7 linked regions of the Homo sapiens genome follow. The protein of the gene in region 7 interacts with the protein of the main gene of each other region in a biochemical or structural test. Each region holds a gene or a part of one and is shown on either strand. Other genes may lie near its edges. The genes, in order: CACNA1D, FZD4, PLEKHH2, PLEKHA1, PDLIM4, CACNA1A and DLG3.

The links.
Region 1: the proteins of DLG3 (region 7) and CACNA1D interact in a test that uses a peptide from one of them, tested with the Homo sapiens proteins (one large-scale study listed by IntAct).
Region 2: the proteins of DLG3 (region 7) and FZD4 interact in a test that uses a peptide from one of them, tested with the Homo sapiens proteins (one large-scale study listed by IntAct).
Region 3: the proteins of DLG3 (region 7) and PLEKHH2 interact in a test that uses a peptide from one of them, tested with the Homo sapiens proteins (one large-scale study listed by IntAct).
Region 4: the proteins of DLG3 (region 7) and PLEKHA1 interact in a test that uses a peptide from one of them, tested with the Homo sapiens proteins (one large-scale study listed by IntAct).
Region 5: the proteins of DLG3 (region 7) and PDLIM4 interact in a test that uses a peptide from one of them, tested with the Homo sapiens proteins (one large-scale study listed by IntAct).
Region 6: the proteins of DLG3 (region 7) and CACNA1A interact in a test that uses a peptide from one of them, tested with the Homo sapiens proteins (one large-scale study listed by IntAct).

Annotation. Positions count from the first base shown.
Region 1 is NC_000003.12:53,808,863-53,812,907, forward strand, and holds part of CACNA1D (voltage-dependent L-type calcium channel subunit alpha-1D), read left to right. Parts: intron 1-1,115; coding exon 1,116-1,436; intron 1,437-2,250; coding exon 2,251-2,544; 3' UTR 2,545-4,045. UniProt on the Homo sapiens protein: Voltage-sensitive calcium channels (VSCC) mediate the entry of calcium ions into excitable cells and are also involved in a variety of calcium-dependent processes, including muscle contraction, hormone or neurotransmitter release, gene expression, cell motility, cell division and cell death.
Region 2 is NC_000011.10:86,948,714-86,952,758, reverse strand, and holds part of FZD4 (frizzled-4 precursor), read left to right. Parts: exon of another isoform or gene 1-288; coding exon 289-1,617; 3' UTR 1,618-4,045. UniProt on the Homo sapiens protein: Receptor for Wnt proteins.
Region 3 is NC_000002.12:43,699,321-43,703,365, reverse strand, and holds part of PLEKHH2 (pleckstrin homology domain-containing family H member 2), read right to left. Parts: intron 3,720-4,045; coding exon 2,758-3,719; intron 2,357-2,757; exon of another isoform or gene 2,285-2,356; intron 1-2,284. UniProt on the Homo sapiens protein: In the kidney glomerulus may play a role in linking podocyte foot processes to the glomerular basement membrane. May be involved in stabilization of F-actin by attenuating its depolymerization. Can recruit TGFB1I1 from focal adhesions to podocyte lamellipodia.
Region 4 is NC_000010.11:122,391,332-122,395,376, forward strand, and holds part of PLEKHA1 (pleckstrin homology domain-containing family A member 1), read left to right. Parts: intron 1-971; exon of another isoform or gene 972-1,041; intron 1,042-1,849; 5' UTR 1,850-1,869; coding exon 1,870-2,010; intron 2,011-4,045. UniProt on the Homo sapiens protein: Binds specifically to phosphatidylinositol 3,4-diphosphate (PtdIns3,4P2), but not to other phosphoinositides. May recruit other proteins to the plasma membrane.
Region 5 is NC_000005.10:132,256,318-132,260,860, forward strand, and holds the start of PDLIM4 (PDZ and LIM domain protein 4), read left to right. Parts: upstream 1-1,378; 5' UTR 1,379-1,417; coding exon 1,418-1,510; intron 1,511-4,543.
Region 6 is NC_000019.10:13,296,850-13,300,894, reverse strand, and holds part of CACNA1A (voltage-dependent P/Q-type calcium channel subunit alpha-1A), read left to right. Parts: intron 1-238; coding exon 239-345; intron 346-1,541; coding exon 1,542-2,351; intron 2,352-4,045.
Region 7 is NC_000023.11:70,493,114-70,497,158, forward strand, and holds part of DLG3 (disks large homolog 3), read left to right. Parts: intron 1-262; coding exon of another isoform or gene 263-362; intron 363-2,294; coding exon 2,295-2,340; intron 2,341-4,045. UniProt on the Homo sapiens protein: Required for learning most likely through its role in synaptic plasticity following NMDA receptor signaling.

The sequences.
Region 1 (4,045 bases), on a different chromosome or scaffold from region 7:
AGGAGGGAAGGAGAGAATCTTCACCTACAGTCTAGTTAATCTTTGTAACAATCCTGTCAAATAGCTATGGCCATGAGTCCCATGCTGCCCAAGCTCACACAAGTGACTGCTGGCATTTGAATCCAGGGAGCCAGCTGCCAAAGCTGGCCTCACTGCCCAGGTGCCTCCCTGCGATCCCCACCACCTCTTCCTGGCATTGAATACAGAGCCTGATGTGATCTGAGCTCAGGGAGTGGGGGCCACTTGGCTGATTCTGAACAAGCGGTGCAGCCCTTCATTTTCTCTAAGAAGTGGTTCCTTCATTAAGTTTATGGGTCCCTCCATGGGCAGGGCCCTGTGGGTACTATGCAGGGTTAACCTCCCCTGCCTACAAAGGGAGCAGTCTGGGGAGAACAGTTTGCCCACGTTGAGGGCGGCTGCACAGGCAAGAGGGTGGGGCCGGAGCCCACTCACTAGGGCTTTCCCTCAAGGATAACAATATGGCGCTTTTTCTTTCTGAAAATATCACATCAGAGATGCCATTCATTCGTGCACGACAGGGTGGTGGGCATGGACCTGTGCTGTTTACAGACAGCGTTCCCCGTCCCTCTCTGCAGAGTGTGAACCCCAAGGTGCATCTGCCGTGGTGGGATTGTAAGACCGGGGCTTGTACCCAGTGCTTTAGCACATGCCAAATGCCGGCTCTAGGATGCATTACTCCAGAGCAAAGAGAACCAGCTGTTTTCCTATAAGTGCTGGGAAGTGGTAGTTTCCCCTGAATGTACTTCGGTATTTAAACCCAGCATGAACTGGGTGGTGTGTTCACACCCACAGCTTGTTGGGCTTCCCTGATTCTTCATTCTGAAGCAATTTCATGAATTAGCAACTGATACCTCCTTGGGAAAAGCCAAAGGAAATGCATTATGGATTCGGGGTAAAAGAAAGCACAGTCTGCTAGAAAACAAAGTCATCACCGCCCATTCATTCAGCGTACTTCAGTGTGCCCATGTCCTTTCCAAGTCCTTGCCTGGACTGCCCCTGGCGAGCGCAGCGCCGGTGCTTGGTCTGTGCGCAGAAGGTTTGAGGCCCGGACCTCTGAGAACCTCTGGTCTCCCAACAGTCCCCTCTTTCCTCAGATCATGGCAGTTGCCGGCCTAGATTCAAGTAAAGCCCAGAAGTACTCACCGAGTCACTCGACCCGGTCGTGGGCCACCCCTCCAGCAACCCCTCCCTACCGGGACTGGACACCGTGCTACACCCCCCTGATCCAAGTGGAGCAGTCAGAGGCCCTGGACCAGGTGAACGGCAGCCTGCCGTCCCTGCACCGCAGCTCCTGGTACACAGACGAGCCCGACATCTCCTACCGGACTTTCACACCAGCCAGCCTGACTGTCCCCAGCAGCTTCCGGAACAAAAACAGCGACAAGCAGAGGAGTGCGGACAGCTTGGTGGAGGCAGTGAGTACGGTTCTTGGCCGTGGTGGGCAGGAAGCACCAGGAGCAGCAGAGGTGCAACTGTAACAGCAGGAAGGGCAGTGGTGGGAGGGCGGCCAGGCTGTGAGCTAGGCTGCCTCAATCAGACACTTCTGAGCAGCAGGAATGTACCTGAAGCATGAGTAAAAACTGGTCACCACCACTGGCTGCAGTGGCTTACGTCTGTAATCTCAGCACTTTGGGAGGCCGAGGCGGGTGGATCACCTGAGGTCAGCGGCTCAAAGACCAGCCTTGCCAACATGGTGAAACCCCGTCTCTACTAAAAATACAAAAATTAGCCGGGCGTGGTGGTGTATGCCTGTAATCCCAGCTACTCAGGAGGCTGCAGCAGGAGAACTGCTTGAACCCGGGAGGTGGAGGCTGCAGTGAGCCGAGATCACACCACTGCACTCCAGCCTGGGCCACAGAGCGAGACTCTTGTCTCAAAAAAAAAAAAAAAAAAAAAAAAAAAACAAAAACTGGTCACCACCGTCAATTCTCATAAATGAGCTGTGCTGGCATTATGGGTGCTGTTCCGGCATATGTTTCTAGTTTATACTAAATGTCTTTCCCCAGTGGGTTTCACTCTTGTTGGGCCATGTGTAGTTTTTTAGCTCCAGGACATTTTCAAAGCCATTTACACTAGTTATTATGTATGAGGTCTAGAAAACATGATTGAGCTGCATCCCCAAAGCACACGGTGCAGTTAAGTTAGCACTGGAGTTGATTTTTCTGTCGTCCCCCTGCCCTGCAAAGCCTTATAACACCCCCATGCCATCCATCCCTCTTTTCTGTACAGGTCCTGATATCCGAAGGCTTGGGACGCTATGCAAGGGACCCAAAATTTGTGTCAGCAACAAAACACGAAATCGCTGATGCCTGTGACCTCACCATCGACGAGATGGAGAGTGCAGCCAGCACCCTGCTTAATGGGAACGTGCGTCCCCGAGCCAACGGGGATGTGGGCCCCCTCTCACACCGGCAGGACTATGAGCTACAGGACTTTGGTCCTGGCTACAGCGACGAAGAGCCAGACCCTGGGAGGGATGAGGAGGACCTGGCGGATGAAATGATATGCATCACCACCTTGTAGCCCCCAGCGAGGGGCAGACTGGCTCTGGCCTCAGGTGGGGCGCAGGAGAGCCAGGGGAAAAGTGCCTCATAGTTAGGAAAGTTTAGGCACTAGTTGGGAGTAATATTCAATTAATTAGACTTTTGTATAAGAGATGTCATGCCTCAAGAAAGCCATAAACCTGGTAGGAACAGGTCCCAAGCGGTTGAGCCTGGCAGAGTACCATGCGCTCGGCCCCAGCTGCAGGAAACAGCAGGCCCCGCCCTCTCACAGAGGATGGGTGAGGAGGCCAGACCTGCCCTGCCCCATTGTCCAGATGGGCACTGCTGTGGAGTCTGCTTCTCCCATGTACCAGGGCACCAGGCCCACCCAACTGAAGGCATGGCGGCGGGGTGCAGGGGAAAGTTAAAGGTGATGACGATCATCACACCTGTGTCGTTACCTCAGCCATCGGTCTAGCATATCAGTCACTGGGCCCAACATATCCATTTTTAAACCCTTTCCCCCAAATACACTGCGTCCTGGTTCCTGTTTAGCTGTTCTGAAATACGGTGTGTAAGTAAGTCAGAACCCAGCTACCAGTGATTATTGCGAGGGCAATGGGACCTCATAAATAAGGTTTTCTGTGATGTGACGCCAGTTTACATAAGAGAATATCACTCCGATGGTCGGTTTCTGACTGTCACGCTAAGGGCAACTGTAAACTGGAATAATAATGCACTCGCAACCAGGTAAACTTAGATACACTAGTTTGTTTAAAATTATAGATTTACTGTACATGACTTGTAATATACTATAATTTGTATTTGTAAAGAGATGGTCTATATTTTGTAATTACTGTATTGTATTTGAACTGCAGCAATATCCATGGGTCCTAATAATTGTAGTTCCCCACTAAAATCTAGAAATTATTAGTATTTTTACTCGGGCTATCCAGAAGTAGAAGAAATAGAGCCAATTCTCATTTATTCAGCGAAAATCCTCTGGGGTTAAAATTTTAAGTTTGAAAGAACTTGACACTACAGAAATTTTTCTAAAATATTTTGAGTCACTATAAACCTATCATCTTTCCACAAGATATACCAGATGACTATTTGCAGTCTTTTCTTTGGGCAAGAGTTCCATGATTTTGATACTGTACCTTTGGATCCACCATGGGTTGCAACTGTCTTTGGTTTTGTTTGTTTGACTTGAACCACCCTCTGGTAAGTAAGTAAGTGAATTACAGAGCAGGTCCAGCTGGCTGCTCTGCCCCTTGGGTATCCATAGTTACGGTTTTCTCTGTGGCCCACCCAGGGTGTTTTTTGCATCGCTGGTGCAGAAATGCATAGGTGGATGAGATATAGCTGCTCTTGTCCTCTGGGGACTGGTGGTGCTGCTTAAGAAATAAGGGGTGCTGGGGACAGAGGAGCAACGTGGTGATCTATAGGATTGGAGTGTCGGGGTCTGTACAAATCGTATTGTTGCCTTTTACAAAACTGCTGTACTGTATGTTCTCTTTGAGGGCTTTTATATGCAATTG
Region 2 (4,045 bases), on a different chromosome or scaffold from region 7:
GTGCAAAGAGGGCTTATGCAATTCTTCAGACCCTATTTATTTTATTTATTTATTTATGTACATTCTTCTGGAAAGGATTACTAAAGCCAAACTAAGAAAAGTATGTAAGTGATGGATTATCAGGCGCCCTTGTTTGAGGTCAGAGTAAACAGACAGACTCCCGATAGGTTGGTTTAAAAGTAGATACCTAGATTGCCTGGAAGCATTCAACTCAGCTTTGTGGGAGCATTTGGTCAAACTTCCAAGTCATTGTTTTTTTTGTGTGTGTTCATTTTGTTACTTTTCCAGTTCTTCCTTTGTTCTGTTTATGTGCCAATGTGCACAGAGAAGATCAACATCCCCATTGGCCCATGCGGCGGCATGTGTCTTTCAGTCAAGAGACGCTGTGAACCCGTCCTGAAGGAATTTGGATTTGCCTGGCCAGAGAGTCTGAACTGCAGCAAATTCCCACCACAGAACGACCACAACCACATGTGCATGGAAGGGCCAGGTGATGAAGAGGTGCCCTTACCTCACAAAACCCCCATCCAGCCTGGGGAAGAGTGTCACTCTGTGGGAACCAATTCTGATCAGTACATCTGGGTGAAAAGGAGCCTGAACTGTGTGCTCAAGTGTGGCTATGATGCTGGCTTATACAGCCGCTCAGCCAAGGAGTTCACTGATATCTGGATGGCTGTGTGGGCCAGCCTGTGTTTCATCTCCACTGCCTTCACAGTACTGACCTTCCTGATCGATTCTTCTAGGTTTTCCTACCCTGAGCGCCCCATCATATTTCTCAGTATGTGCTATAATATTTATAGCATTGCTTATATTGTCAGGCTGACTGTAGGCCGGGAAAGGATATCCTGTGATTTTGAAGAGGCAGCAGAACCTGTTCTCATCCAAGAAGGACTTAAGAACACAGGATGTGCAATAATTTTCTTGCTGATGTACTTTTTTGGAATGGCCAGCTCCATTTGGTGGGTTATTCTGACACTCACTTGGTTTTTGGCAGCAGGACTCAAATGGGGTCATGAAGCCATTGAAATGCACAGCTCTTATTTCCACATTGCAGCCTGGGCCATCCCCGCAGTGAAAACCATTGTCATCTTGATTATGAGACTGGTGGATGCAGATGAACTGACTGGCTTGTGCTATGTTGGAAACCAAAATCTCGATGCCCTCACCGGGTTCGTGGTGGCTCCCCTCTTTACTTATTTGGTCATTGGAACTTTGTTCATTGCTGCAGGTTTGGTGGCCTTGTTCAAAATTCGGTCAAATCTTCAAAAGGATGGGACAAAGACAGACAAGTTAGAAAGACTGATGGTCAAGATTGGGGTGTTCTCAGTACTGTACACAGTTCCTGCAACGTGTGTGATTGCCTGTTATTTTTATGAAATCTCCAACTGGGCACTTTTTCGGTATTCTGCAGATGATTCCAACATGGCTGTTGAAATGTTGAAAATTTTTATGTCTTTGTTGGTGGGCATCACTTCAGGCATGTGGATTTGGTCTGCCAAAACTCTTCACACGTGGCAGAAGTGTTCCAACAGATTGGTGAATTCTGGAAAGGTAAAGAGAGAGAAGAGAGGAAATGGTTGGGTGAAGCCTGGAAAAGGCAGTGAGACTGTGGTATAAGGCTAGTCAGCCTCCATGCTTTCTTCATTTTGAAGGGGGGAATGCCAGCATTTTGGAGGAAATTCTACTAAAAGTTTTATGCAGTGAATCTCAGTTTGAACAAACTAGCAACAATTAAGTGACCCCCGTCAACCCACTGCCTCCCACCCCGACCCCAGCATCAAAAAACCAATGATTTTGCTGCAGACTTTGGAATGATCCAAAATGGAAAAGCCAGTTAGAGGCTTTCAAAGCTGTGAAAAATCAAAACGTTGATCACTTTAGCAGGTTGCAGCTTGGAGCGTGGAGGTCCTGCCTAGATTCCAGGAAGTCCAGGGCGATACTGTTTTCCCCTGCAGGGTGGGATTTGAGCTGTGAGTTGGTAACTAGCAGGGAGAAATATTAACTTTTTTAACCCTTTACCATTTTAAATACTAACTGGGTCTTTCAGATAGCAAAGCAATCTATAAACACTGGAAACGCTGGGTTCAGAAAAGTGTTACAAGAGTTTTATAGTTTGGCTGATGTAACATAAACATCTTCTGTGGTGCGCTGTCTGCTGTTTAGAACTTTGTGGACTGCACTCCCAAGAAGTGGTGTTAGAATCTTTCAGTGCCTTTGTCATAAAACAGTTATTTGAACAAACAAAAGTACTGTACTCACACACATAAGGTATCCAGTGGATTTTTCTTCTCTGTCTTCCTCTCTTAAATTTCAACATCTCTCTTCTTGGCTGCTGCTGTTTTCTTCATTTTATGTTAATGACTCAAAAAAGGTATTTTTATAGAATTTTTGTACTGCAGCATGCTTAAAGAGGGGAAAAGGAAGGGTGATTCACTTTCTGACAATCACTTAATTCAGAGGAAAATGAGATTTACTAAGTTGACTTACCTGACGGACCCCAGAGACCTATTGCATTGAGCAGTGGGGACTTAATATATTTTACTTGTGTGATTGCATCTATGCAGACGCCAGTCTGGAAGAGCTGAAATGTTAAGTTTCTTGGCAACTTTGCATTCACACAGATTAGCTGTGTAATTTTTGTGTGTCAATTACAATTAAAAGCACATTGTTGGACCATGACATAGTATACTCAACTGACTTTAAAACTATGGTCAACTTCAACTTGCATTCTCAGAATGATAGTGCCTTTAAAAATTTTTTTATTTTTTAAAGCATAAGAATGTTATCAGAATCTGGTCTACTTAGGACAATGGAGACTTTTTCAGTTTTATAAAGGGAACTGAGGACAGCTAATCCAACTACTTGGTGCGTAATTGTTTCCTAGTAATTGGCAAAGGCTCCTTGTAAGATTTCACTGGAGGCAGTGTGGCCTGGAGTATTTATATGGTGCTTAATGAATCTCCAGAATGCCAGCCAGAAGCCTGATTGGTTAGTAGGGAATAAAGTGTAGACCATATGAAATGAACTGCAAACTCTAATAGCCCAGGTCTTAATTGCCTTTAGCAGAGGTATCCAAAGCTTTTAAAATTTATGCATACGTTCTTCACAAGGGGGTACCCCCAGCAGCCTCTCGAAAATTGCACTTCTCTTAAAACTGTAACTGGCCTTTCTCTTACCTTGCCTTAGGCGTTCTAATCATGAGATCTTGGGGACAAATTGACTATGTCACAGGTTGCTCTCCTTGTAACTCATACCTGTCTGCTTCAGCAACTGCTTTGCAATGACATTTATTTATTAATTCATGCCTTAAAAAAATAGGAAGGGAAGCTTTTTTTTTTCTTTTTTTTTTTTTCAATCACACTTTGTGGAAAAACATTTCCAGGGACTCAAAATTCCAAAAAGGTGGTCAAATTCTGGAAGTAAGCATTTCCTCTTTTTTAAAAATTTGGTTTGAGCCTTATGCCCATAGTTTGACATTTCCCTTTCTTCTTTCCTTTTTGTTTTTGTGTGGTTCTTGAGCTCTCTGACATCAAGATGCATGTAAAGTCGATTGTATGTTTTGGAAGGCAAAGTCTTGGCTTTTGAGACTGAAGTTAAGTGGGCACAGGTGGCCCCTGCTGCTGTGCCCAGTCTGAGTACCTTGGCTAGACTCTAGGTCAGGCTCCAGGAGCATGAGAATTGATCCCCAGAAGAACCATTTTAACTCCATCTGATACTCCATTGCCTATGAAATGTAAAATGTGAACTCCCTGTGCTGCTTGTAGACAGTTCCCATAACTGTCCACGGCCCTGGAGCACGCACCCAGGGGCAGAGCCTGCCCTTACTCACGCTCTGCTCTGGTGTCTTGGGAGTTGTGCAGGGACTCTGGCCCAGGCAGGGGAAGGAAGACCAGGCGGTAGGGGACTGGTCTTGCTGTTAGAGTATAGAGGTTTGTAATGCAGTTTTCTTCATAATGTGTCAGTGATTGTGTGACCAAGGCAGCATCTAGCAGAAAGCCAGGCATGGAGTAGGTGATCGATACTTGTCAATGACTAAATAATAACA
Region 3 (4,045 bases), on a different chromosome or scaffold from region 7:
TATCTTGTTCCAAAAGTAGATTATTTTGTTTTCTCTTCTCTTCTGAAAAATCTCTGAAACAGGTACTGGACAGGTTACTAGCCCTGCTCCCTTGAGAAAAGGGACCACAGGTGGTTCCTAATGCATAGAGCAACATGTCCTGAATTTAATAATGGGTCTAACTTGGACACAGTTGACTGTCCAGGACACAGTGGGCAACTAAGGCCATCCTCTTCAAGACAGCCAGTGGCTTGAGAGGCAACTGGCATGAGTTCTCCGACTATCAGGGACATTTTCGATTGAATAGTGCCTGGCTGAGTGAATCAGATGTAGTTTCTTTGAGTGTGAGATACACCCACACACAAACAGCAACAGAAAGACATATAACAATAAGGGCAGTAAGCAGGAGACGGGAGGCAGTCTGAAGCCCTAGGAGACTGGGGGAAAGTGGTTAGTAGTAGAATTAGAGAGAGGGGACTGGAGGCCTGGGAGGACAAGCTGAGCCACTGGGAGCAGGGGCAATGGATGTCACTTGTTTCTATCGGAGGTACTGCTGACTATCACATGTTGTCCCTCTAGAGTGACTATTGTAATTTGCATGGTATTCCAGTTCAATAAGGATAGGCTATGCCTTAAAATAAGCTCTTAGAAATTTTTAAAATAAACTCATATTTATTGAGGCAATTAGAATACATCTCTTTTCCTTGAAACCTGAAAATACCTAATAAACACAGAAATAAAATCTCAGACTTGGCCAGTCTGCTGGAAGGCTTTTGAAAAGCAATACTACTTTTTCAGGACCGAATAGCTTCAAAAGAGTAAGAGAAGACAGAATGGAAAAAAAAAAAAAAAAAAAAAAGTAGTAGAATGGGTTGCCAAATAAAACGAACTTAAAAGCCTAACCTAAATCTCTGAAAATCTCAACATCATAAGATAGGCAAAATTTCAATTTCTTGCTGCCTAAAGTATAACATAATTAGAATTCCAGAGATTCACATGCCATTAACTTCCACTTTCCTGTGCTATCCAAAATTTAGTAATAAACTACAGAAGGTTTCATGTGGATATTGAAATAAAATGTCCTCTTGAAAGCAAATAAGAGCACATACATCTTAAGTTCTGAATTTATATTAGAAAAACATGTCCACCCTAATTTGCTTAAAACTGCATCAGTCACAAAATAAAAAATATAGTAATAAAAGAACATGACTCCAAAAACCAAAAGAGTCCTGCAACCCAGATGTTTCTCTGGAGGCCAAAGGTTAAATTATGCCAGCATGTGAAGAAAAACTTAAATCTATAACAGATCATTTCAGACCAGGTGCAGTGGCGTGACACGCCTGTAATCCCAGCACTTTGGGAGGCTGAGGTGGGTGGATCACCTGAAGTCAGGCATTCAAGACCAGCCTGGCCAACATGGTGAAACCCCACCTCTACTAAAAATACAAAAAATTAGCCAGGTGTGGTGGTAAACGTCTGTAGTTCCAGCTACTTGGGAGGCTAAGGCAGGAGAATTGCCTGAACCCAGGTGGCAGAGGTTGCAGTGAGCTGAGATGGCGCCATTGCACTCTAGCCCGGGAGACAAGAGTGAAACTTCATCTCAAAAAAAAAAAAAAAAATTAAAATTAAACAGATCATTTCATTTTATTTCAAATATTGGAAGAATTTTTTTTTTTTTTTAGTCTAGCAGTGTTATCCTACTAATGGTCAATGTTTCAATGGAAGAAGATTTTATCTATTCTAGGTCTGTAGAAAGATACTTTGGAAACCAATGGCTATATAAGCTCAAAAAGAAAATTAAATTTATCTTAAAGCCAATCAAATAACGACTAAGTTCAAAAACTTATAACTAACAAGAGTTAAGTGTCCCGGTTCAGAATTCACCCAAAATATCACAGTTAGGGGGAACCCTTCTTTCCCACCTCCAATGTTTCCTTCCACATGGAGGAACCTCCAGTAATTGAACACTGCTGATCCCTCTCCACCTATTCACTTTCCCCTCCCCAAGAGGAAGAGTGGCTTAATGTGATTGGTAAGCTGAGAAGGAGAAACTGGGCATGCAGAGCCTGGCAACTTCCTCTCCCCTTTCTCTTGAGAAGTAGCTGCCTGCAGGAAACAACCATCTGTTCTGTTTTTTGAGGTAGTAAGTTTTAGAGGGGCATGGCTTCAGTAGCAGAATCCTGTGGTGGTCCAGGGCTTCCTGGGAACAGGTGACTCAATCCAGCTAATCTCAAAGTTCAGTATTAGAAAGCTCATTTGCCCACTAATTCTCTAAAATTAGTTTTATCAGTAAATAAGGTAATACCTTGATCTCCCATCTGTCTTGTCATTATCTTATTTCTCAATTGATTCAGAACTCAGTGAGGGAAGAGAAGAAGAAATTTTATCCTAAAAACTGGAAAACGTCAGAACAAAGCTGGATTTGAAAGGAAAGAAGAAAAGAAAAAGTAAAACTTGAAAATGAGTGTGGACACTTTGGGAGGCAAAGGCAGGTGGATCACTTGAGGTCAGGAGTTCAAGACCAGCCTGGCCAACATGGCGAAACCCCGTCTCTACCAAAAATACAAAAATTAGCCAGGCATGGTAGTGCATGCCTGTATCAGCTACTCAGGAGGCTGAGGCAGGAGAATCACTTGAACCCGGGAGATGGAGGTTGCAGTGAGCCAAGATCGCGCCACTGCACTCCAGCTTGGGCGACAGAGCGAGACTCCCTCCCAGAAAAAAAAAGTGTTGAGAAAAAAACTACTGCGTATGTGTTACATGCGGTGATATAATTACCCAAGAAGGAAAACGGTGCAGGGGAGGAGTTGGAGGTTTGCTGTATGCCACCTTCTTTGCTGAGTCACAGTGTTCCTGGTCATCTGAATTTGGAGAGTCCAAGGAGTCATAGGAAAATAATCCATCATCACAACTCGTGTCCATATTCTCTAAAACTTCTGTACTGTCTCCATCAACTAGATCAAGATCAGTTTCCTGAGGTCTCAGTGGTCGTATCATGCTTATAGCGTTTCTATTTGTACCAAACATCCTGTCAGAGCTTAACTGTGGCTGGCTTAAGTGCCTTTTGGCTAGTGCTACACTTATACTGAAAACATTAGGAATCCTTAACTTTGGGGGTGGCAGGTGTGATGAAGGCACTAATTGTGTTCCTTTTCCAGAGAGTGAGTTAGGATGCTTTGGCATTAAAGCTGGGGTCAAAATAGGGCTTGGGGTGTTGGCTTCACTCGATGAAGATGAATAATCGAGTCTCTGGGATTGAAATTTTTTATTCAGTTCATCCGAGGAACTATCTTGTTCCTTTTTACTTAATTCAGAATTTCCCTTTCCAAGAGGACTATTTAGAGCTTTCCACTGTGCCTCCTGCTGCCAAGAATATAGCTTCTTGTGTTCTGGTCTCTTTATGCCAAAAGTCTCTTCCTCAAATATAGAGCTGCTGTCATCAGATGCTGTCAGATACATTTCACTTCCCATCCTGCTACACTGGACCCCTTCCTCAGATGTGTGACTGGAGAGGGTGGATGTGCATCTGGACTTGGATCTTCCTTTGCTCCCGTCTTCCTCATCAGAGCTCCAGTCACTCACAGGAGCCCCAGAATTCTGGGAGATGCCACCATCTGTGGCAAAGCTTGTTCTTGTTTTCCGATTCTGTTCTGAGCCACAAGGGGTTTGATGCAATGTTCTCTGGCCTCTGTTGTTTTCTAGAACTTGGTTATCAACAGACTTTTCTGGAATTTCCATTTCTAGAAAAGGATACATCATATCAGCATGCTGCCTTTAAGAATATAATCTTTCTGTACATTTAGCTTTATGTAGCTACACTGTAGAAATTGACACTGTAGAAATTTGCTGGGTGCAGTGGTGTGTACCTGTAGTCCCAGCTACTTGGGAGGCTGAGGCAGGATGATTGCTTGAGCCCAGGAGCTGAAGTCTGCAGTGAGCTATGATCAGCCACTGCACTCCAGCCTGGGTGACAGAGCAAGACCCTGCCTCTATTTTTTTTAAAGGAATAAACCAAAAATTTCATACAAATAATTTACATTATCCTGTGTTAGTCTTATGTCTTTTT
Region 4 (4,045 bases), on a different chromosome or scaffold from region 7:
TATCTAAGAATTCATTGCCAATTCCAAAGTAAGATTTACCCTATATTTTCTTCTGAAAGTTTTCTGGTTTTAGCTCTTAAATTGTTAATCCATTTTGAGTTAATTTTTATAAATGGTGTGAGGTAGGGGGTCCAGCTTCATTCTATGTGGATATCCAGTTGTACCAGCACCAGTTGTTGAAGAGGCTTTTTTCCCCCACATTGAATGGTATTAGCACCCTTGTTGAAATCAGTTGACTATAGATGTATAGGTTGAAATCAGTTGACTATAGATGTATAGGTTTATTTCTGTGCTCTTAATTCTTTTCCACTGATCTATGTCTATTCTCATGGCAAGTTGATAGCTTTTACCTGTGGTATATGGTAGTATAGAGTATTGATTTTTCAAGCTTTGATTACATTGTAAACTTTTTTTTTTTTACAAACATGGTAAATTTATTAAAGAAATTATTTCCTTTAAAGTATCAGATTTATAAGAACAATAACAGCAACAACACACAAACTTATTGGATGGTTTTATTTAAAACTTTTTGGTGTATTTTATCATTTCTCTGACTGCATATGGAATAGTGATGCAGATACATAGTATATCAGTGTGCATTGTAATTGAATTTTCACTGTAAGTTAAATTTACCTTGAGCCTCTAAATAAATAGTTATGTAAATTCATCCTGCCAAAAGATGTGATGGTGCCAGCTATAGAAGTACCAGAATAGTAACAGCTGTCTGGTGCAGATTTGGGCTAAGCATCACATCAAGAAGGAATCACATGTCTGTAGTCTCTAGAGAAACAGTTCTTGGCACCTAATGGTTTTTTAACTTTAATCAGTACAATAAAAGTTGCAGTACTTTAGGACCAGAATATGATACACCTTTTAAGTCTATTTTAATCTATAATGTCTCTCTTTTTCTTTTTTTTCTTGTAATAATTTACTTGCTAAAGAAACTTTTTTTTTTCCTTTGTTTCTTATAGTCTGGCTCTTGCTGATTGAATTCCTTTGGTGCAGTTTAGCATGTTCCTCTGTGTTCTGCATCTCCTGTAGGTTGGTATTTGGATATAGAGGGGATCTAAAAAACATTTTTTCTTGTTGCTTTATGTTCACATGATAGGTGATGTTTGTGTCTTCCATCAGGAGGCACATCATACCTGCTTATCTCTCTTTCCAGTACATTAACTAGTTTATTTTGATTCACTTTAGTTTTAACAATTCAAGGGTTTTTTAGAGAGGATGGTGTAGAGCATAAGATAGGAGATCTAGAGTGCGGTAATCTGGATTCAGGCTTTGACTCTTGGCCTACTAGTTTTGGAATTTTGGAAAATCACTTCCCCTGTGTATTAAGTTCCTTATCTGCTGGGGATGATTATGCCTACTCCTAGGATTGTTTAGAAGATTAAAAGAGTTAACATATGGAAAAGAACCTTGTACAGAGCCTAGCATGTAGCAAGTGGTCACTAAATTTTAACTTTTGTTGTTTTGTGAATTTAAAAATATTCTAAAATAATCTAAAGGATAGATTATCTTGATTTGTGAGGAAATTAAAATTTGGATAACTATTTTTTTTGGCTCACCTGGGGTTTTTTTAGGGAAAAAGTAAGTAAATTATTCAGCTGAGGTGAGTAGCTCTCTGTTGTCCCCATCACAGTGAATAAATAGTTACATTTAGTAACCACTCTTCACAAACTGAATTTCAAAAGTGATTTTTGTCAATGCCTCAGATGTTGGTGTGTGTTCATTTTAATTGACCTTACCTAATGTTGGCAAGTTGCCCCCTCATTGAACAGATTTGCAGTCCATGAGAAATACTTTCCTGTTTCATAGGGAGCTTACTGTTAATATTTTTATTTTACAGTGTAATGTTCAAGCTCAGAAATGCCTTATGTGGATCGTCAGAATCGCATTTGTGGTTTTCTAGACATTGAAGAAAATGAAAACAGTGGGAAATTTCTTCGAAGGTACTTCATACTGGATACCAGAGAAGATAGTTTCGTGTGGTACATGGATAATCCACAGGTTTGTAAAATCCCAAGGATTATCTTTTAAAAGCACAGAAAGTTGTATTTAAGTATTTAACATACTATACAGGCTTTAGATTTGTCTTCTTAAGCAGTATATTTTTAGATTTATTTCTACTGGCTGTCCTCTCTGCCCTGCACCCCTGACCTCTACTGTTTTGTTTGAATTTCAGAAGGTGAAACTAAGTTTATTTGATAAAAATTAATGCTTCTGTATATATTTTTCCCTCGAGAGAGAAATACTCTCTCTGGTGGCAAATTAGGTTTTAGAAAATTAGAACTTGAGTCACAGAAAAAAATAACAATTGAAGCTGTCCCAAAAATAAGAAATACTTTTTTTGTAACATGTATTTCAAACAACAGCTAAAATAAAGACCAGGGATAGATGATTTTCTTGCATTAAGGAGGCTTAATACCAGGGTCCCTTTAGTGAGATTAAATTTAGGTTTAAGATGCTGCATCTAGGATAGAGACTATTATTTTTAAATAAATAAATGACTTAACCACATGATACTCTTGCACATATGTAGTCCTTTTATTTTGTAGTGTCAGATTTGAGTCAGTCATTGTAATGCCATCCATGAACTGAAATGCAGTTTGATTTTATTGTTGCCTTGCAAAACACAGGGGTAAATGCTACAATTTAAAAAATTGGAATCCCAGCCTTAAGAGGCCTGAGATTAGATATCATCTGTGAAGTAGTTTTAAACTTTCAACTTTCTCTACTTTTTTTTTTTTTTTTTTTTTTTTTTGAGATGGAGTCTCTTATCACCCAGGCTGGAATGCAGCGGTATGATTTTGACTCACTGCAGCCTCTGCCTCCTGGGTTCAAGTGATTCTCATGCCTCAGCCTCCCGAGTAGCTGGGACTACAGGGGTGTGCCACCACACCTGGCTAATTTTTTGTATTTTTAGTAGAGACAGGGTTTTTCCGTCTTGGCCAGGCTGGTGTTGAACTCCTGATGTCAGGTGATCCTCCAGCCTCAGCCTCCCAAAGTGCTGAGATTACAGGCATGAGCCACCGCGCCCGGCCTTTTGGAACTTTTTATCTTCAAATAAAAATTGGTGTAGAAGTTAAAAATGGGGTTGTATGTTGCAAGGAAGTATGTGCAAAGCAAGGGATGAATCTCTAGCAGACTTCTAAGCTGATTTTTGTCCAGTAGGCTTCTCGTGTGGGTGAGGAATGGAAGGTCTAGGGAAGAGCAGAGACTTATACAAGGTTCTGTTCTGTTTCACAGAGCAGGAACTAGGTCTGCTGATAAGTAGTCTAGTATTCTTCACTATATACTGATTTTAGATTAGACAAGATATATATGTGTCTATAGTAGATACTAATGTGTGTATGTTTATTTATGTAGAATTTGAGTTGTAAGGGACCTCTCCTCACCCATATGAGCCATTGCACAGTTCTGCCTATTTTCTCTCCCTGATTTTTCTCTCTCTTCACAAGGTCTGGTTGACATATGTATGGTTTCTCCTGAATTTTACTTGAAGCTCCTTGATTATTTTTCTGTGTTCCTACATAATAGATTCTTCTTGTCATTCTTCCTTTATCAGTACTACCCATTTAGCAGAGCTAAAAGGAGTTAAGTACAAAATAGAATATATTTATTACCCTGAATAAAACTTGAACTTGGAATTCAGAGGAAAGTTACACAGCTAGTAGAAGGAGTTGAAGTCTTCATGGAAGTGGTAACATTTGAAATTGACTTAGAAGTTTGGATATAATATTGGCTAAGAGATGGAAAAGTTGAGTATTCCAGTGCTCAAAGAACAGTGTGGGCAGAGATCAAAGCAAGAGAGCCTATGGCGTGTTTGGAGACTAGATCACTTTGGCTATAGCACTCAGCTAGGTCTTGTCCACATAAACTTTTAAAATCCAGATCTCTATGTTAGAATTAATGCATTGGCTTTTCTGGACACAGTGCCAGTTTTTTTTTTAAGTACAGAATTTAAATATTTTTTAGTTTGTTCTTATTAATTTTATATCTTCTTTCCAACTTAGGAAATCTTGATTCTGCCAGCCAGTGTATT
Region 5 (4,543 bases), on a different chromosome or scaffold from region 7:
AGTGATGGAGAACAGCCCAATGGCTGGTGCTCTAATGGATTCAGACACCGCACCCCCCCCCACACACACACCCCAAATACACTCCCATATAAACACCGCTACCACACACCACTTGTTTCTCTCCCAGCTGAACAGATAGCAGCATCTTGCCTCCTACAGAGGCACCCACATTCTACTCTGAAGGGCCCCTCCCTTCCTTGGACTGCCCTAGGTTTGTGCTTCTCAAGCAGTTCTCCTCTTTGCGGGTTGTCAGAGACCCAGTGGACACATTTCATCCCACCACCTGTGAGGAGCCCAAGAGCAGGGTCCTTATCACAGCTTGACTAAAAGGACACATAAGGTTAAGGATTTGGGCTAAATGAGAGACCTCCACAGAGTCTGGAAAAGTAAAAGGTGTCTCCCTGATGTAGCCAGATAGAAGTGCCGAGAGAACCAGAGGGAGGTTGGTGGTGCCATGGCATCTGCATTGGCTGTTCAAGTACATCCCCGGAGGATAATGGTTGGGAATGGAGAGAAGACCTTGGAGAGAAAAGGGCCCAAAGTGAAGCGCTGCATATATTTCTTCCCTTTACACTGCACAGCCACGACCCCAGCCGCTCCAGCTGCTACTTTCTCAGGAGACCTGGGGAAACAAATCTCCTGGCAAAGGACGAGGGGAGGGGGCTGTGCAGACAGGGAGGTGGCCTGCGAGGAGCCTGCAAGCAGCAAGAGAAGGCCTGAATGTTCTGGGGAAGCAGGGACACCTTGCTTCCAGATACAAGTCAGGGACCACCTCTTCCAGGAAGCCTTACTGGCCTCCACAAACTAGTCTGAGGACCTTTCTGTGTCCACTCCCACGCTCGGCGCTGCCTGCTGTCGTTTTGGGTCTGCGTCCCCGGCCCAGTGCTGCGCAAGCCCCTGGTTCATAGGGTTCTTGGTTCAGAGGGCTCCTCACACGGCAGGATGGGCCGCAGGTGTGCCAGTCGGGCCCATGAGGAGGTATCTGAGCTGGGGCAGCCCCATCCCCCAAGTGGGCCCTCCATCCCTCCTCGGGCTGGAGCACCGCCCCTAAAAGCGACTTCAAAGGGCCGGTGTCGACAGCTGGGTTTGGGTCCGCGGCCTGCAGATCCAAGGCCCGAGCAGGATCCAGGCCGTCGGGGCCGTCCGAACGCGGGGATCTCTGAGAGCTGAGTGGGGGTGCCGGGTTGCCGGCAGCCGGGGCTGAGGGCGGGTCCTCAGAGCCCCCCGAAGTGGGAGGGTCGGGCTGGCCGCGGGGCCAATCCAGGCGCACAGGGAGCGGGGGCGGGGGCTGGGCCGAGTGGGGACAGGGGCGGGCGGGCCGGGGGCGGGCGCGGCGTCCAGGCGGCGGCGGCGGCTGCGGCGGCGGCGGCTCCTCCTCAGAGTCCGGCTCAGGCTCCGGCTGCGGCTCCAGCCCGCGATGCCCCATTCCGTGACCCTGCGCGGGCCTTCGCCCTGGGGCTTCCGCCTGGTGGGCGGCCGGGACTTCAGCGCGCCCCTCACCATCTCACGGGTGAGTCTGGCGGCTGCGTGGCGGCAGGGCGGTCCCATGTCTGAGACCGGGTTCTCGCGGTCCGCCCGGGACCCAGATCCCCTGTGTATCCGAGGCTTGAAGGCGGAGGGTTGGCCTGGGCGCCCCGCATGCTGTAGAGGCGGCTTCCAGGCAGAGGCAGGCAGCCCCAGCCGCCCTCCTCCCACGCTGGGCCTGTCTGCCCGATCCCGCGAAGAATCTCCCAAGAGTTCACGCACCCGCCTCCCCGCTGGCCTCATCTGGGGGAGCCACTGTGGACCCGGGAAGGACCCGCGGAGATGGGCCAGGGGTCTAGACAGCTCTACAGAGGCCCAGAAACTCTTCAGACTCACCCCCTGCCTGAAGATCTGGGGCAAAATGATTTAGAGCCCCCCTTCCCCTATCAGGGGTCCCTGCCGGCAGAGCTTGGTGACCCAGGGAGGTCTGGGGTCCTCGCTGAATCTGAGAAGACAGAGGTCCATCCACTTCCCACTTTGGGCGTGAGTCAGTCTCTCATTCACGACCTCAGTCACCCTAAGGGGAAGTGACCAGGAGGAATTTTGGCTTCCAGGGGAAAGGGAGACTTAACTGTGAGGTTGTGAGACCCCTCCCCACAAGATGACACAAAGCCGGGGGCCAGGACAGCCTCAGGCCCGTTCCTCAAGTTTCCCAGGGCCCTGCCTTGCCCACAGAGAAGGAAAAGGAGCCGGCACAGCCCTGGAGCGTGGCTAGTCTGAGGATAGAGGAGTGGAGGAGGTGACTCAGGCCCTGTTCGAGGGGGTGCCTGTCTAGGGGAGACAGGATCCTGGCCCAGCCTCGACATCCTCGTGTCTGGAGGGCCAAAAGAGAGGACTCAGACCCTGCCCTTGGGGGTCCCCAGCCTAAGGGACAGAAGAGGAGAGAACCCAGGCCCTGCCCTTGGCGGCTCTCAGTCTGGAAGGAGCAGAGGAGATAACCTGAAACCATCTGACGGCCATCCCTTGCTCCCACACAGGCTGATCTTGTCTTTGGGGGCCTGTGTCAGAGGCACAGAGAAGCACCTTCCCCCACCCTACTGCCACCTCTTGCCATGGGGGCTGGGCCAAGCCGGCTGGGCTTTAAGAGACTTCTGTCCAGTTCTTGGGAGGGGGTGGGCACCAGGTGGAGCGTGGAATCATGGAATCCCGTTTCTGGGGGCCAGGGTGACAGGCAGGCCCAGCTGTCCTAGGAGGCTTCCCACATCTGCCCTCACTGCCAGGTCCCTGGGGCCGAGTGAGGTGGGCCTTCAACACATCCCAGAGCCTTTCATCTCCTCTTTCCTATAGGATTCCTGCTGTGTGTGTGTGTGTGTGTGTGTGTGTGTGTACGCAAGCCTGTGTCTGCTTGTGTGTGTCATGCTGTGTGTCCGCTGAGGGGGCTGGTGGGGACACTAAGCGGGCTGGCCAGGCACCCTGGGCGTGAGGCCGCTGACAGGCTCAGTGGCGGCGGCTGACGGCTGCAGGCGGCAGGGAGCTGAGACATCTGTTGCCCACGCGGCTGCCTGCCCTCCGAGGAAAGGCCTCCACACGTCACAGCTGCGGCTGCGGCAGCAGCAGCAGCAACAGCCTTGTTTGGAGCTGACTGGGGATGCAGGCCCCAGGCAGGCAGTCTGGGAGAAGGTTTGCCAGGAAGAGCCTCCTTTGTCCCCCAAAGTCACGCGGCAGCAGCTCAGGCCCAAGGAGCCAGGATGGCTGAGGTTGGGTTTGGGTGGGATCTGGGGAGATTTACAGCGCTGGGGAGGCACAGGCCACAGCTTGCCTAGCAGGTACCTCTGGGGCAGGTCTACAGGGACTGAAGATATGTGGGAGTGTCTTCACCAGTGGGGCTCAAGATCCAGCCCCTCCCTTGCTTCCAGGACCTCCCCTACGCGGGACCTGGTAGGGAGGGACAGCCTCACACAGACAGGGAGGAGGCTATCGGCCCGGCAGGGCTGGGGGCTTGCAATCTCAGCCCATGAAGCCTCCAGGAGTCCCAAGAACATCATCCGGGGCTCCTTCCCCACAAGCTATAATGATGGCTGGCCTTGGCCAAGCATCCAGGGTGTGCCAGGCCCTACCCTAATGGGTGTTGGTAACAGCTCCCTCCAGTCCCTGTAGTGAGCACCACCTTATTTATGCCCAGCCTCCTGTGGGGGCTTTACATGCCCTGTTTTTCTCAAATAGTCCTTACAACAGCCTTTAGAAGTAAGGACTCCCTCTGGCCTTACATAGATGGAGACCCAGGCACAGAGAGGCTAATGTAATCAACCTAGAGAAGCAGAGTGGAGACAGGAGGAATCCAGGCAGTCTGCAGTTTGCTGTGACTGTGTAGGACAATGTGGCACCTGGTTCTGACTTGGACTCCCAGCCCACCACATCTAGGCTGGGTGGAGCAGGGGCTGGGAATGCAGCCACTACCGGTAAGGGGCTGATTCATGCCCTCACCGCCCACCTGACTTCACTGTTCCTGTCTCTGTTCCTTCTTTCTGTTTATCCTGTGCTTAGGAGCTAGACGGATCGGCCTGAATTCCACTCTGTCCTGTGACTTCCCGCTTAGAGCCCTCCATGGTTCCCAGCCACCCAGGAGAAATGCCAGCTTCCCACCCGGGTGTACAAGACTCTGCAATATCTGATCCCTGCCTCTTCTCTGACTTCATCTCTCCCACTCTCCCCTCACTCATGATGCTCCGGCCATACAACCTTCCTTCTTCTTTCTCTCCAGATATGCCATTATACATGCTGGTCCTTCTGCCTGGAACACTATCTCTCCCTCAGATACTCTCTTTTCCCTTACCCCCTTTGGAAGAAAAATGCAGGTGTTAAGAGCATAGTTTTAAATTTGGAATCAGGTGGCCTGGATTGAAATCTTGATTCAGTCTTTTATCAATTAACTATCCTTCTGTACTTCTCTGGACCTCCGTTTCCTGATCTAGGAAATGGGCTTGCCTTCAGGATTAATGAGATAATGCATGTAAAGGTGACTGGGAGAGTCACAATTTCTTGGCCTCACGCCCTCTCTGACCAGAACTCCCCTAGCTCA
Region 6 (4,045 bases), on a different chromosome or scaffold from region 7:
ATTTTTTGTTATCTGGCTGTGTGTTAAAATAGGCTTCATAATGAGTTAGATGTCAAACTTATACACAGAGGGGATAGCAATACACTTAACCAATAGCAGGTACCCATTCCAATTGGGGAGCCTTGGTTCTGATTGGTCGAAATATTTCAAATGTTGCCCCTGGTCAGCAACAGGGTCAGAAGTGAGTCCCCAAGGCCTAGTTCATGTTTTGTGAACAAAGATTCCACGTGCCTTTTAGGACGAGCAAGAGGAAGAAGAAGCAGCGAACCAGAAACTTGCCCTACAGAAAGCCAAGGAGGTGGCAGAAGTGAGTCCTCTGTCCGCGGCCAACATGTCTATAGCTGTGTAAGTGCCCCTAATCCCTGGGATGCTACCCTGGCTCCTGAACGTCCACACTATCCCAGGCACAGATTTGGGAAGCAGTGGGGGTGGTCCTTGACAGAACTGAGCTTTAGGAAGAGACACTTCTTGTCCTTCCACCCACTTTCACTCAATAAATATTTGGTTAGCAGCTGTTATGTACCCAGCACTGTTCTAACTTCTGGGGATACAGCATTAACAAGGAGGAAAAAAAAAATCCCACCTGTGTGTAGCCATTCTAGCAAGGGAAGGAGTCAATAAATTAGATAAATAAGTAAATTATATATTGTGTTAGAAGGCGATGGAACTACAGAGAAAGTAGGGGAGGGAAATAGCAAATGCTGGGAGTGAAGAGAGTTGTGATTTTAAACGAAGTTGTCAGGGAAGGCATCACCTAGAATAGGGGTCCCCAGTCCCGGGGCTGTGGACTGGTACCAGGCCGAGGCCTATTAGGAACGGGGCTGCACAGCAGGAGGTGAACAGTGAGCAAGCAAGCATTACCGCCTGAGCTCCACCTGCCGTCAGATCAGCAGGCAGCATTAGATTCTCATAGGAACACAAACACTATTGTGAACGGTGCATCTGAGGGATCTAGGTTGCGTGCTCCTTTTAAGAATCGAATGCCTGATGATCTCAGGTGAAACAGTTTCATCCCAAAACCACCCCCCACACCTAGGTCTGTGGAAAAACTGTCTTCCACAAAACTGGCCCCTGGTGCCAAAAAGGTTGGGGACTGCTCACCTAGAAGGTTACATGGCCTGAAGGAGGTGAGGGAGGAGCCACTGGGGGGCCTGGGGAAGGGCATCCCAGGCAGAGGGAACAGCATAGGCAATGGCCCTGAGGCAGGAACATGCCTGATGTGAAGGAGGCCTGTGTGACTAGAATCGAATAGTAAGTGTGAGGAGGTGAAGGCAAGGAGGTGACAAGCAGATTACACAGGGCCTTCTGGGTCAGGGGGGAGGACTTGGGCTTTTGCCCCTAGCCAGGTGGGAGCCATGGAGGGTTCTTGAGCAGAGGAGGCTGGGACCTGACTCAGATGCTCACAGACTCCTAGCATTCAGTGGGGAGTAGAGGGTGGAGAGCAGGAGTGGGAGGCTGAGATGTGGGTTGGTTCGCCTGGGTCATCCATCCAAGCTACAGTGCCTAGCAATGCTCTAAGTCCTGTGACCATGCCACTGCAGGAAAGAGCAACAGAAGAATCAAAAGCCAGCCAAGTCCGTGTGGGAGCAGCGGACCAGTGAGATGCGAAAGCAGAACTTGCTGGCCAGCCGGGAGGCCCTGTATAACGAAATGGACCCGGACGAGCGCTGGAAGGCTGCCTACACGCGGCACCTGCGGCCAGACATGAAGACGCACTTGGACCGGCCGCTGGTGGTGGACCCGCAGGAGAACCGCAACAACAACACCAACAAGAGCCGGGCGGCCGAGCCCACCGTGGACCAGCGCCTCGGCCAGCAGCGCGCCGAGGACTTCCTCAGGAAACAGGCCCGCTACCACGATCGGGCCCGGGACCCCAGCGGCTCGGCGGGCCTGGACGCACGGAGGCCCTGGGCGGGAAGCCAGGAGGCCGAGCTGAGCCGGGAGGGACCCTACGGCCGCGAGTCGGACCACCACGCCCGGGAGGGCAGCCTGGAGCAACCCGGGTTCTGGGAGGGCGAGGCCGAGCGAGGCAAGGCCGGGGACCCCCACCGGAGGCACGTGCACCGGCAGGGGGGCAGCAGGGAGAGCCGCAGCGGGTCCCCGCGCACGGGCGCGGACGGGGAGCATCGACGTCATCGCGCGCACCGCAGGCCCGGGGAGGAGGGTCCGGAGGACAAGGCGGAGCGGAGGGCGCGGCACCGCGAGGGCAGCCGGCCGGCCCGGGGCGGCGAGGGCGAGGGCGAGGGCCCCGACGGGGGCGAGCGCAGGAGAAGGCACCGGCATGGCGCTCCAGCCACGTACGAGGGGGACGCGCGGAGGGAGGACAAGGAGCGGAGGCATCGGAGGAGGAAGTAAGTGGAGGTGACCTCGAATCCGCAGAATGACGGTAACATTAATAATGACAACAGCCAAAGTAGCACGTGCTGTGTATTTGTTTATAAAAATATATTATAAAATGCTGTATTTGGCCAGGCGCAGTGGCTCACGCCTGTAATCCCAGCACTTTGGGAGGCCGAGGCGGATGGATCACGAGGTCAGGAGTTCAAGACCAGCCTGGCCAAGATGGTGAAACCCCACCTCTAATAAAAATACAAAAATTAGCCGGGCACGGTGGCAGGCGCCTGTAGCCCCAGCTACTCAGGAGGCTGAGGCAGGAGAATCGCCTGAAAACAGGGGGCGGAGGTTGCAATGAGCCGAGATCACACCACCGCACTCCAGCCTGGGCGACAGAGTGAGACTCTGTCTCAAAAAAAAAAAAAAAGTGCTGTATTTGGCCAGGAGCAGTGGCTCATGCCTGTAATCCCAGCACTTTGAGAGGCCGAGGCGGGCGGATCACTTGAGGTCAGGAGTTGGAGAACAGGCTGGCCAACATAGTGAAACCCCGTCTCTACTAAAAATACAAAAATTAGTGGTGGTGCCCACCTGTATTCCCACTACTCAGGAGGCTGAGGCGGGAGAATCAGTTGAACCTGGGAGGTGGAGGTAGGTTGCAGTGAGCTGAGATCGTGCCATCACACTCCAGCCTGGGCAACAGAGCAAGACTCTGTCTCAAAAAAAAAAAAATGCTGTATGTTTTTGTTTTTTTGACACAGGGTCTCGCCTGTTGCCCAGGCTGGAGTGCAGTGGCAGTCATAGCTCAGTGCAGCCTCTACCTCCCGGGCTCAAGCCATCCGCCTCAGCCTCACAAGTAGCTGGGACCACAGACATGTGCCACATGCCTGGCTAATTTTTGTAGAGACAGTGTTTTGTAGAGACAGGGTTTCACTGTGTTTCCCAGGCTGGTCTCAAACTCCTGAACTCAAGCATTCCGCCTGCCTTAGCCTCCCTAAAGTGCTGGGACTACAGGGTTGAGCCACCACACTCAGCCTAATTTTTTTACCTTTAGTAGAAATGAGGCCTGGCTCTGTTGCCCAGGCTGGTCCCCAACTCCTGGCCTCAAGCAATCATCCCACCTCAGTCTCCCAAAGTGTTCGGATTAGAGGCTTCACAGATGGGGAAACTGAGAGATTGAGTGAGCTCCTCAAGGTCATTCCTCTAACCAGTGTCCTTGAACCCAGGCTCTCTGGCACCAGAGGCCTTGAGCATTTCAGGGAAACTATTAAGAGAAGCCCCACTGTCGTCCAGAATTATATAGTCTTCTGTGTTCTTGCTGTGTGACTTTTGCAAAGTGACTTCATATCTCTGGGCCTCACACAATGGAAATAGTGGGATCTAATTGGGTCATTGCCAGGATTGAATGAGGTAATGTATGCAAAGGGCCTGGAAGAGCAGCTGACACATAATAAGTGCTCGGTAAATTTAGAGCATTTTTGGCCATTTTCAGCCAACTCTATTTACCTAATGCTATTCTTTGGAAGTTTGAAAAGCCACTCTGTTGGGAGGCCAAGGTGGGAGGATCACTTGATACCAGGAGTTGGAGACCAGTCTGGGCAATAGAGGCAGACCCCATCTCTATAAAATATAAAAAATTAAACAGATGTGGTGGCATGCACCTGCAGTCCCAACTACTTGGGAGGCTGAGGCAGGAGGGTCACTGGAGCCCAGG
Region 7 (4,045 bases):
TTGTTCTTTAGGAAGTACCAGTGAGTGTTATGAGTGTCTGGATTATGTAGAAACTTCTAACATCCCTACAACATTTTCTTGTAAACATAATTTTCCTCTTACATCAACTTTCATTTAATCTCATAGACTCCATTTGTGAGAGATGGTCTTTTATTTAGCTCACCGTTGTCTCCATTTTAGTTTTTCTTGCATGCTTTAAAATCCATTGTTCTGTTTTTTTTTTTCTTCTGTCCTTCCCCTCCATCTTCATGTTCTTTCACAGTCGATCAAAACGAAACGTAAAAAGAGTTTCCGCCTCTCTCGAAAGTTTCCATTTTACAAGAGCAAAGAAAACATGGCCCAGGAGAGCAGCATACAGGAACGTAAGTAGCAGCAGAGTCCAGAGAGCAGGCCATCTGCAGCCCCATCCTCTCATCCTCAGTTGCCCTTCCCTCGAGAGAAGCCTGGGCAGGGCCACGTGTGGCCTCGTGCCTGCCTGTGTGCGTGTGCACCTGCTTATCTACAGAGTCAGGGCAGAAACTGGTCTGCCTAAGGAGATGTTGGGTTTTATTTGTCCTGCTCCTCAGTTAGAATGAATGTTGGAGGCACTGAGGTGGGACTGGTCCCAGGGTCAGCCTCCAGGAAGTGCCTGGCACTAGCAGTGGAAGTGCCAGACAGAGCTCTGCTGTGGTGGTGAGGAACGGTTTTTTAGCTAGACTGTCAGGGTCAGGAAAATGGTTTTTCAAGAGAACAAGGTCTAGGGACTCAGTGTTGCTCTCCTGGTTTCTTCCTCTTGTGTTTTCTTTCCCTTAACTTCACTCATGTATGTCAAGAGAAGAGCCTTTTCTTCCCAGGATCCCTGGAGTTGGGGCTACTTCTGGAATCCCATGCACGTGCATAAGCATACAGGATATCCACACAACTCTCAGCAGACTCGCTGTCATCCTAGAGTGCCTACAGAGCCAGTTTTCCCAGGAGAATCCTTCCTGCTTAAATGAGTTGACATGGAAGGAGTGTTGCTCCACATTGTTCAAATAAAGATCTATTGAGAAACACAAAGTTGGTTCGGTAGGAAGAGCAGTCACACTGAGCTAAATTCAACGGAAGAAGAAATTTAATCCTGATAAATCTTCTTGCTCTACCGTGTGCCTCAGCAATTAACTGCTCCAACCTTAACCTTAAACACCAGGTCTGGCTTGAAAAATGTCTTCTCACTTGTCTCATCATGAACAGTAAACATCTCTCATTTACCAGTGACTCCTCTGTCTTACATGGAGGGATCTTGGGGTCTTGGTCTATTGGGGCTGGCAGGAGACTGACTGGTTCTGATAGGAAATGTCCTTCTGTCAGGCCAGCTTGGTCCACAGTCATGGTATGTGTAAGTCATTGCTATCTGGGGTGGTACCTGGTGGACAGAAGGGTGCCCTCATCTAGATGGCAGCCACGGCTCATCATCCTGGAGTAGTTCAATGAGAAGCCATAGACGGGGTGGCTCTGCTCATGAGCAGTTAGGAGACAGTCTGAGTCAGAGGCCTGAGGTGATGTCACCATAGTTTCATCAGATGAGTCCCAGAGTCCCTCCATGCCAAGCCCAGCCTGGGGAGGTGTTCATTGCTCAGTGGTCCCGCCTGGTGGGCGAGGGGGTATCTACTGGATGACAGAGTTGAAGGTGCCTAGTGCTTCTCCAGAAGCTGAGCTCATCCCCCAAGATCTGTCCAGCTCAGGGCAGCTTTGGAGGCCACACTCTACACCATGCGAAACTTTTCCTGAAGGGTTTGAACAGAGTGAATCAGTATTGGGCAAAGGCTTCTTGAGGTGATGGCAATTCTATCTGCCTACCTGGCACACGCGGACATTTGCTCTTTCACGCACTGCAGAGGGAAATGGTGATTTCAGGGGCAAACAGAGACCTGGGCTCCACAACCAAAATTTAGTCAAAGCAGGTGCTCTAAGCCTTGGAGTGTCACCTGTCCTGTCCCATTGGCCTACAGCTGTAGACACCTCAGAAAGCTAGTCTACTCCAAGGCCCTCTGGCAATGAATTGGGCAGCATGAAGTCTTGATGTCTTATCTGCCCTGGGATGTTCTTTCTGTGGCAAAGTTCCTGGCCTCACTATAGTGCTAGGTCTTCATGGTGTTTCATAATTCTGTCACTAGTGCTCACCTACCTCTGTATTCTTCCTCCCCCCTTGTCTTTTTCTCTATTTTTTCTCTTCTCCCCAAATCTCTCCCTCTCTTCCATTCCCTCCCATCCCTTCCCCTTCCCCCCTCTTCTCCCCGTCGTCCTCTCTCCGCCCTTGCTGTCTGTGAAATCAGGACTTCCCGGGGTTAAGTGACGATTATTATGGAGCAAAGAACCTGAGTAAGTCCAACTTACACACCGTTCACTGTACTTGTGGCATGAATGGAGATAGTGGGGGTGGGGCTATTGGGGACATGGGTGAGGGTGAAGGGTGAGGGGAGGGCAGTGTTTGTGAGCACTCTGACATCACAGCAGGAAGAAGTGCATGTGGCTCCATATGTTACATGTTTGCTATGGATCCCTAGTACCCAAATAAGTCCATATCATTCATGCCTTTGTTTACCTTTTGCTACTCAAAGTGGGAGGGCGTGAGCATGGCATCCCACCTTAGAAGTGAAGTAAGCTTGAAATGTTTCTCCAAGGTAACCACTCAGCTAATCTCTAGCCTATTGTCGAAGGGAGGGGTGCCTGCTGGTTGGATTCTTCTCCCAGTGATACCACGCTAAAGAATTGGGTGTAGGAATTGCAGCTGTTAACAGTCCTCTAACTAGGGGCAAGGGTACTGTGACCCCTTTTTCCCAACCTGCATCTGAGATGTCCCAGCAGATCCCGGGCCTCAGCAAACAGCCACTGTTTGGCTTCCCACAGAGCACCTGTAAGGGGTTGAGCTGGTCTGCTAGGGGCCTCAGCATCATTTATGGACCATATATAGTTAGTGCTTTATCTCAGGAAAACTCCAACCTCATTTTCCTTTCTGGAAAAGAATCCTGGAGTGGAAAATGAAAAAGACCTAGATGATGAGGCCTTAGTGGCCATCCTGCTGCGTGCAAGGGTGCACAGACACCAAATGGGTTCTATCAGCATATACTCTCCTTCAATAAATAATACAGACCAAAGGCAAAGGAGTTGCCCATGGGGATTGTTCAGGAACTAGCCATGTGTGGCAACTCAGCCAGTCCTTTCTGGGTGGGGGGGCCACAGCATATCATGGTCTGGAACAGTGTGGTCTTGGCTGAAATGAGCAGCATCTCTCTCCATAGTTTGGTGTGTCCATGTCTCATCTTCATTCGCGTGTCATCTTGGATGGGCGGGCTTTGTTTGTGCCTCCTACGAGCGCTGCTCCTCCGCCTGAGCTTTCTTTTCCCTCACCACTAAGAGATGGGCAGATCCCAGCTGTGTGAGACAGGAGGGCTGCCTTGTCCTCAAGGTGTTTTTGTTGGTTTTGTTGTCTGTGTTTTGACATATGTGTCTGGTGGTGGATGGAGATGCTTCCCCTCTCACCACTGAAGCCAGGCTCTCCTGCTTTGGAGTGGTGGCAGGAAGGCTGGGGAGCCCACCGAATGGTCAGAGCAGCGCTCCCTGGTGTCTGCTTAACCCATCCAGCGTTTGGCCTCTTAGTTGTGGAGTGCCACATGGTTCTGTACTTCAGGGGCTCTGTTGGGCGGGGGACACCCATGAGCAGACTGGTCCCTGGACTTCTCTTTGCTCCTGTCACTGTCTTTTCTTTCCTGTTGTTAGCCTTGGGAGATGCATTTTGAAATACGATTTGGAAACCATCCAGGTCAATTTGATTCAGATGAAGAGGATGCTGCTGAAGGAAGTATGGCTTGTAGTACATAGGGAGGGACTTGGCAGACCAAGAGGGCTCTGGGGACAAGTACGAGAGGGCCAGGGGCTCAGGATTGGAGCTGTGCCTCCCAGTTGGTAGCCTGGATGTGGCAGGCCTCTGGTGGCCTGACTCAGTTGGCAGCTCAGTGTCTCGCTCCTGGAGCATTTGAGTTTTGTGCTGCATGTGACCTCTCAGTGGTGTGTTCTGAATTGGAGT